Linked DNA regions of Homo sapiens: region 2 is linked to region 1. Evidence: fine-mapped expression QTL. Tissue or cell type: subcutaneous fat. Region 1 holds a variant in brackets; the other region holds the start of a gene. All regions are shown on one strand. Distances are between the middles of the regions.

The links. PIP is the estimated chance that this variant, and not a neighbour inherited with it, causes the effect.
Region 2: OSGIN2 starts here. The variant in region 1 is fine-mapped to the expression of OSGIN2 in subcutaneous fat (GTEx, PIP 0.92).

What each region holds. Positions count from the first base shown.
Region 1 is chr8:89,878,476-89,882,872 of GRCh38, forward strand. No RefSeq gene overlaps it. Among named protein-coding and RNA genes, the nearest start is that of OSGIN2, 22 kb to the right of the region's middle. The variant A/T (reference allele first, on the strand shown) is at 2,611.
Region 2 is chr8:89,899,968-89,904,364 of GRCh38, forward strand. OSGIN2 (oxidative stress induced growth inhibitor family member 2) reads left to right here and starts at 2,603. Exons shown (of 6, transcript NM_001126111.3): 1 at 2,603-2,870. The coding sequence starts at 2,827. LOC124901974 (a long non-coding RNA gene) reads right to left here and starts at 2,439. Exons shown (of 2, transcript XR_007061001.1): 1 at 2,052-2,439. It also overlaps the pseudogene RNU6-925P. RefSeq lists enhancers at 482-1,247, 1,248-2,013 and silencers at 2,307-2,605, 2,355-2,694, 2,725-3,174, 4,168-4,227.

The DNA.
Region 1 (4,397 bases):
ACTACAGGCGTGCACCACCACGCCTGGCTAATTTTGTATTTTTTGTAGAGATGGAATTTCACCATGTTGGCCAGGCTGCTCTCGAACTCCTGACCTCCAGTGATCCACCCACCCTGGCCTCCCAAAGTGCTGGAATTACAGGTATGAGCCATCACATCTGGACTCATTTTCTTTTCTTTTTTTTTTTTACAGAAATATATACCCTTTTTCTTAATTTTCTGTAATGACCATATATTACTTCTAAAGTAGAAATTTAAATATATTTTAATGGAAGAGGGTTATTAGCTTAAACATGTTTGAAAATTATAGAGAATAAATGTTTTTAAAAACATTCCAGGCTGGGCATGGTAGCTCACGCCTGTAATCCCAGCACTTTGGGAGGCTGAGGTGGGTGGATCACAAGGTCAAGAGACTGAGACCATCCTGGCCAACATGGTGAAACCCTGTCTCTACTAAAAGTACAAAAATTAGCTGGGCGTGGTGGTGCACGCCTATAATCCCAGCTACCTGGGAGGCTGAGGCAGGGGAATTGCTTGAACCTGGGAGGCGGAGGTTGCAGTGAGCGGAGATGGTGCCATAGCACTCCAGCCTGGCAACAGAGTGAGACGCTGTCTAAAAAAAAAAAAAAAAAAAAAAAAAAAAACCACTCCAGATGTTTGATAAACCCACAATGTCTCTTCCTAATAAAATTCATTTTTCAAGAATTGCTAAACTGGCCAGGTCAGTGGCTCACACCTGTAATCCCAATGCTTTGGGAGGCCAAGGCAGGAAGATCATTTGAGGCCAAGTGTTCTAGACCAGCCTGGGTAATGCAGTGAGACTCTGTCTCTACAAACATTTTTAAAAAAAAATTAGCCAGGCATATTGGTGTGTGCCTATAGTCCTAGCTACTCAAGAGGCTGAGGCAGGAGGATCACTTGAGCCTAGGAGTTTGAGGCTACTGTGTAGCCTGGGCAACAGAGTAAGATCCTGTCTCAAAAAAAACAAACAAAAACAAACAAACAAAAAAACAAGACAATAAAAAACAAACAACCCAATAATGGGCAAAAGATTTGAATACCCACTTCACTAAAGAAGATATATGAATTGCAAATAAACACATAAAAAGATGCTCGGCCAGGCGTGGTGGCTTATGCCTGTAATCCCAGCATTCTTGGAGGCCAAGGCGGGTGAATCACCAGCTCAGGAGTTCGAGACCAGCCTGGCCAACATGGTGAAACGCCGTCTCTACTAAAAATTGAAAAAATTAGCTGGGCGTAGTGGTGGGCGCCTGTAATCCCAGCTACTCTGGAGGCTGAGGCAGGAGAATCACCTGAACCCTGGAGGTGGAGGCTGCAGTGAGCCAAGATCGCACCACTGCACTCCAGCCCAGGTGACAGAGTGAGATCCATCTCAAAAACAAAACAAAACAAAAAGATGCTCAACAATATTAATAATTCATGAAAAGCAAATTAAAACCACAATGAGATGTCACTACATATCACCAGAATGTCTAAAATCAAAAGACTGACTAACATTAAGTGTTGGTGAGGATACTGAGTGACTGAAACTATCATGTATTGCATGTGAGGATGGAAAATGATACTGACACTTTGGAAAAGAGTTTGGAAGTTTCTTATATGGTAAACATACTCTCGGGTGATAACTCAGCATTCCCACCCTTAGGAATTTCCTCAAATAAAACAACATATATGTTTACCCAAAGACCTGTATACAAATGTTTAGTTTTTAAAATTTGTATTTATGAGAGCCCCAAACTGGAAACAACTCCAATGTCCTTTAACTGGTAAATGGGTTGTGGCAGTTCATATAATGGAATTCTATCTCATAATAAAAAGAAGGGCATTCCTGGGAAAGAGGATGCCTGGCACAAAGGCTCAAGACAAGAAATAGCTTGGTGTATTGATGTAACTACTAGGATTTCAGGGTTGCTGGAAGGTTGTGTAAGGGGGTAAGCCATTGTTAAAATAGACTACATACCTTGTAGAGTATGCTAAGGCATAGGGCTTGTATTTTTGGTGAAGGGTATAACTTCTACAACTGGATTTGGGCAGAATAAGATAAGCAGGTAGACACTGAGATAAACAGAAAAGAAAATATTTGTTCAACGAGCACGAGTTGGCATATTGTCAAAGAATCCTAACCTGTACAGGTAGGCTAGGACATCAAAGACAGGGAACAGTGACATCCTTTCGAATTTTCCAGAGACTGTGATTTACATACATAGGACAAGTAAGATCTACATGTGATTCTGTGTAATTTCTGCATGTTTGCATTAGATTTACAGTTTCTCTTTCAATGTTCAGGTTAACACATTATTAAAGTCAGAGTAGTGACTGTATAGACACTCAGAAATTCGATACTTTCCAAGTAATCAAAAGACTATTGAGGGAAAAAGAACATAATATTTTCTTCTGTCAATAGAGTTAATAGGCCAAGTGCAGTGGTTCACGCCTATAATCCTAGCACTTTGGGAGGCCAAAGTGGGCAGATCACTTGAGGTCAGGAGTTCGAGACCAGCCTGGCCAACATGGTGAAACCCCATCTCCACCAAAAATACAAAAATTAGCTGGGCGTGATGGCATGCGCCTGTAATCCCAGTTACTTGGG[A/T]GGCTGAGGCAGGAGAATTGCTTGACCCCAAGAGGCGGAGGTTGCAGTGAGCCGAGATTGCACCACTGCATTCCAGCCTGGGTGACAGAGCAAGACTCTGTCTCAAGACAAAAATAAAAAATAGAGTTAATAAAGTTTTAACGCTATTTTACTCCAGGTTTTGGCACTAAAATATATCTTCATAAGATGAAGCTAAGAAGCATAACACATTTCTATGTAAATGAATTACATAGAGTTTATAGGTCACCCTTCAATTTAAGAAATTTGTAGAACAAATAAAGCCCATTAGGATGGGTTGGCCATAGCTATAGGAGTGTCCCAGACAGAAATCTAAAATAGGAAGAAACTGGATCATGGTCACCAGGGAAAAGTTGGAACTAAAGAAGCTGAGGAGCTAGGGGAAGCAGCCATCAGAACTGTTCCCAGAAAGACAAGTTATAGTAATGGAGACTTCTTGCTACGTGCTGCCTTTACACCAAGTTTCCTTGGCAGTCCTGAGTGCTCTGCCTTGGTCTATAGCATCTGAATGGAATAACCAGAGGGCCATACTGGAAGGAAAGAATGCATATCTAAAGGAATGAATAAGTAGGGGACTGACGAGAGAGTGTAAGACAATGAATCAGTTCCAATGGGCTATACCACTTCTCTAAGAATATTTAACTAACTGGACTCATGTAACTTGTGGCCGTGACATGTATGTCTAAACTTAGCTCAAGCGTGGCTTTGTCCACCTTGTGTCCCAATTCTGGTAACTAGGCTTCTATTGAAAGCCAAAACTCTACTGTCCACTTTTACTTAATTCAGATTTAAAAATAGGCCTGCTTTGTTCCATGTGTCAGTGTCAAATGTATTGGTTTTCCTAATAGTTCAGCCTATCTAGAACTTTCTTGGCTTTTGCTAGTCCTACTCTTATGGAATGGAATTCTGACTCTGAGTAATGAATAATTAAATGTAAATGCTTCTGCTAAAGTGGTTTCATTGGCTGTTAACTAGATGCCAAATAATAATAAAGGTATTAAGTATTATGCATACCAGCAGTGAATTCAAGTTCAAAGTTCTGGCTTGAACCTTTTGGAAAAAAAATAATTTTACTGTGCCCGAGGAATGATGGTCATTTAGAAACCACATAATATTATTAGACTAAACTGAGCCAACTATTTCAAGGGGGGTGGGGAAAACGAAAAATTCTTTACTTATCATCACCTTTGTATCCATGATACAAGTAAATGTTATTATAGTGATAAGGAAATGATTAATAAATCCAATCAGAACTCCTAAGAAACAATAATATAATGAAAGATTAGAAAGACTTACAAATATTAAATAAATCAATGAATTGTAGGTTAACATGTCAACACAAGCTGATATTAGAAAGACCCCTTCCTCCCAATACAAACACATGGATCAAATATAATAATGGAAGATTTGGTTGTAATGTCAAGCTTGAAATTGACAGGAAAATCTCCAAACTAAATTCCCTGCATACAACCAGGAGTCGTAAGGGGCTGATCATCCCATGAAATGAAAGAAGCTCAGCCACTGACCCTGCCTAGGAAACTGTAAGGAAGCTTTGCCCTCTGTCTAAAATATTAGGTGGAAAAGAAGTCACCCACTGGAAGCCAGCACCTCCGCCTGCAGGTAACTGTGGAATGATCCTAAACTGAGATGTTTGCATTGTAACTGGTCCAGGTATGGCAAAATCCATCAGCCTAGGCAGAGGCAAATGTGAAACTACACTGTGGTTCAGATTCCATATCCTGAGTACATAACAAGAATGCCCAAATCAA
Region 2 (4,397 bases), 21 kb after region 1:
CCAGCAATGCCACTGATAGGTATATACCCCAAAGAAAGGAAATCAGTATATCCTAAGATATACTTGCACTCCCATGTTTATTGCAGCACTGTTCACAACAGCCAAGATTTGGAAACAACCTAAGTGTCCATCAATAGACAAATAAAGAAAATGTGGTTTATGTACACAACGTAGTAGCATTCAGCCATAAAAATGAATGAGATCCTGTTATTTTCAACAAAATGGATGCAACTGATGTCACTACTTTAAGTGAAATAGGCCAGGTACAGAATGACAAACTCTGCATGTTCTCACTTATTTGTGGGAGCTAAAAATTAAAACAACGGAACTAACAGAGAATAGAATGATGGTTACAAGGCTGGGCAGGGTAGTGGGGAATTAAGGGGCAGAGTGGGGATGGTTAATAGGTACAAAAGTATAGACAGAATTAGATCTAGTATTTGACAGCACGAGAGTGACTAGTCAACGATAATTCATTGAACATTTTAAAATAACTAAGTATAATTAGATTGTTTGTAGCACAAAGAAAGGATAAATATTTGAGGTGATGGATACTCCATGTACCCTGATGTGATTATTACTTATTGTATGCCTGTATCAAAATCTCATGTACCCCATAAATATATATACCATGTACTCACAAAAAATAAAAATTAAAAATTAAAAGAATTATCTGGATTGGACTGGCATAGCTTTCAGGAATTTATATGTTTATTTTTAATTTTTTTGGTTACATAGTAGGTGTATATATTTAAAAATACGGAACGCTTCACGAATTTGCGTGTTATCCTTGGGAAGGGGCCATGCTAATCTTTATATTATTCTAATTTTAGTATATGTGCTGCAGAATTAAGCACTGCTTTTAGGAATGTAGGTACTTTATTTATTTATTTTTGAGACGGAGTCTCGCTCTGTCGCCCAGGCTGGAGTGCAGTGGCGCGATCTTAGCTCACTGCAAGCTCCGCCTCCCGGGTTCACGCCATTCACCATGGTCTCGATCTCCTGACCTCGTGATCTGCCCGTCTCGGCCTCCCAAAGTGCTGGGATAACAAGCGTGAGCCACCGCGCCCGGCCAGGTACTTTATTATTATTTTTTGATACGGAGTCTCACTCTTTGGCCCAGGCTGAGTGCAGTGGCGCGATCTCAGCTCACTGCAACCTCCGCCTCCCGGTTTCAAGCGATTCTCCTGCATCAGGCTCTTGAGTAGCTGGGATTACAGGCGCGTGCCACCACGCCCGGGGCTAGGTTTTGTATTTTTAGTAGAAACGGGTTTCACCATGTTGGTCAGGCTGGTCTGGAACTTCTGACCTCAGGTGATCCGTCCGCCTCGGCCTTCCAAAAGGAATTTAGGTACTTTAAAATGCTGTTATGTATGTTAACGGAAAAGTAACTACATGCTTCATTTTCAGAACCAACATTCAAATGAAATGAACGTGTCAAATCGACAAAAGCTCAAAAAAGAGAAAAACATATAATACTTAAAAGTGGTTAATATACTCTTAGATTGCATAACTCTGGGGCAGTCTGAGTCCTATGATTTTCTTTTAAGACCCCAAGACTCTAAAATACCTGCTCATCACAAGTTTGTTCAGTGACAACATTCAGTAAAACTTAACATTTGTTTTACAAAATTATGTTGAAAGATATAAACATAAACGTATATTTGAAGCACAAAAATAATTACGGCTTTTTTTGGAAGCGGAGTTAGACATTTCCGTAGAAAAGTAGATGCAATCAATCTCTCCTGATTTTTGTCCTCCCCACCTTTAATTTTTGACAAACCGAATAACGACACTCACTATTGAGTACTTTTCTAACTCCCTATTGCATCACAAACGCCCGCAGGGGCTTAAAAAGCAGCAGGGGTTCCTGCCCTTCCCCACACTGGCCGGTGTGGTCTGGGGCGGGCCTGATGAGCACCTGGATTTTCACCCGGCGTGCTGGTAATTCCTACACTTGTGGGTGTTTGAGAGACATGAAGAGGGGAGGATGACCTCTTCCCGGAAGCGGGACTTCCATAAAAGAAGCGTGGTGGGCGGGTCCCGGGCACCTGTGGTTTGGTGAGTCCTCCAGGTAACTGTGATGCGGGGGTCAGCGGGAGAGGCACCCGGAAGCTCCCGGCGTCTGCACCCCGGCAGCGCGAGGAAATGCCCAAAGGTGGGTTCTCAGGCGTGGGAAGCTCGACCCTTCCCGGGGTCCTCGGCGAAGTGGCCGAGGCCGCGCCTTACGCAGGGAACTCCGCCGGGCCATCTGGGTGGCCCGAGTTCGCAGCAGCTTCTCTTCCGCTCGTCCCTCGGCCCTCTCGACGCGCACCCACCGGCCTCACCAAGTCGCACGCAGAGGGGCGGCGGGGCGCTGACCGAGGTCTAGGTCTCGATTGCCGCCGGTCGAGCCGCGCAGTTTGCCTGCAGACCTCGGTCCCCTGCCCGCGCAGCCTCGGCTCCATCAGGCCCGGCCCCTCGCCCGGGCCGTGGCTCCACCAATCGCAGACTTCGCCCGCCGCAGCCGCACCTGCGAGGAGGGGCCCGCGCGCCGCTGCAGCCGCCGTCGCAGCGTCCCCGCCCCGCTCCGCCCCTATCGCGGCGCCCCGAGATCACCCGCCTCCGGCGCCTGGCTCCCTGCAGGCGAGGAGCGGAAGCCGCTATCTGGAGGCGGACTCCGGCGCCACAGAGCCGGGGCAGCCGCGGCAACGGCGAGGCGCGAGGCAGGGGCGCCCGGCAGACCCCGCGACCCCGAGCCAGCGGGCGCCCCGAGCGGGCAGCCTCGCCGGGGGAGGCGGAGGCGGCCACGGCGGCCGCGCTCGGGCGCCCCTCGCGCAGCGCTCCATGCCCGTGTGGTGCTGCCGCTGCTCCCTGGCCGGTCATTTCAGGTGACTTCCTCGCCGGGGATGGGAGGGGAGCAGGCGGGGATGCCGCGCTCTCGAGCTTTTTGGCCTGGCCCGGGCCGGGACCGGGGTGGAGGGCGAGCGCCTGGACCGCAGCGTCCTCCCGCCTCGGCCGTCCTGCCTGGCGTGGGGGTGGGGTGGGGTGCGGTGTGGTGGGGTCCTTGCTCCGGGGAGCCCTGCGCTGTTCCCTTTTCTCGCTCTGGACCGCGCGGGTCACGGGACTGCGGGATCGGCTAGGCCGGACTGAGTCGGTTACGGCGAGCTGAGACTTCCCAGTAGTGCAAAGTTTTAGTGAAGGGGGTTCTACGAAGTGCCTGCCTCCCTAAAAAAAAATTATTTCTTAAAAAGTCTTCTAAATAATGTAATGAGTGGAAGGAAGGTAGGGAACTACATTTCAGTGTCATCTAATCACAAATAGATTCTGCCTTGTTAAGATGTTAGCCATGGTAAGACGTGTGTGTTGTAGAAATTTAAAGAATGAGGCGGTTTTACAATCACCTTATGGGGAAAGGTTTTAGGGGTGATAAAATATAATACATTTCTAAAATAAAAGTATGTTTTCTAGATCTAGCACATTTGGTCAACACCTCAGTCATTGGTGGAAAGACCAGACACTAGAAACTGATTTTAACCCTGGGGTGAAGAATGGTTAAGCATAGGGAATACTTTAGTACCTTGCTTTACATATACTGATGTTCCAGAATAATTCTATGTAAGACTTCTTCCCTGGTAAAATATGAAATTTTGATCAAGCCTTCCTAAATAGTGGGTTTCATACAATTTAGGTAACCCATGAACTTGGATGGAAAGAAAGGTATATCATTTCACTAAATTTTAAAAACTAATATTCAGTTAAAATATAAGCAACAAATCACAGTAGTATCTGTGACTGTCATCAGTAGAGATCATAAAATATGTTTATATCACATTGCAGTTAATATAGAAATACTGTTTATACTTATTCAAAATTATAGTAACACATCACTGAATTTATTGAATGCAACAGAGAAGCACATATATATATCGCGTTTACTTTTTATGACTGTTTTAATAGAATTAGTTTTCTTGTAAATCCTGTGTATATTTAAGAACAGTATTCAGAGAAGAGGTTAAGAAGCGTCATCCTATAGTAAAAGAGATGTAAGGCATAGAGAAAGTTTGGAACTTCTTTTGTAACAGCGATAATCCAAGCTTGTCTAACCTCTCAGTGAGTTTAGAATGAGTCTCTAGGTTGTGGATATTAAGGAAAAATTGTTTCATATAATAAACTGCTTGATTTTAACTTTTAGGCAAATTTGTTGACTACTGAGACAGCGGTTTGAAGGTATCAGATTCACTATGGAAACTTTTAGGAAATAGGTTCCCCTAGTGAAACTTGTTAAACTAAATAAAGCCCATGAGAATCTAACATGCCTTTCAGAAAATATTGTGTGAAAGCTATTTGACACCTTTTGATGCACAGTGTAGGATTCATATTCTTTTGACTAATACTGGGTGTTGAATACCATTTGC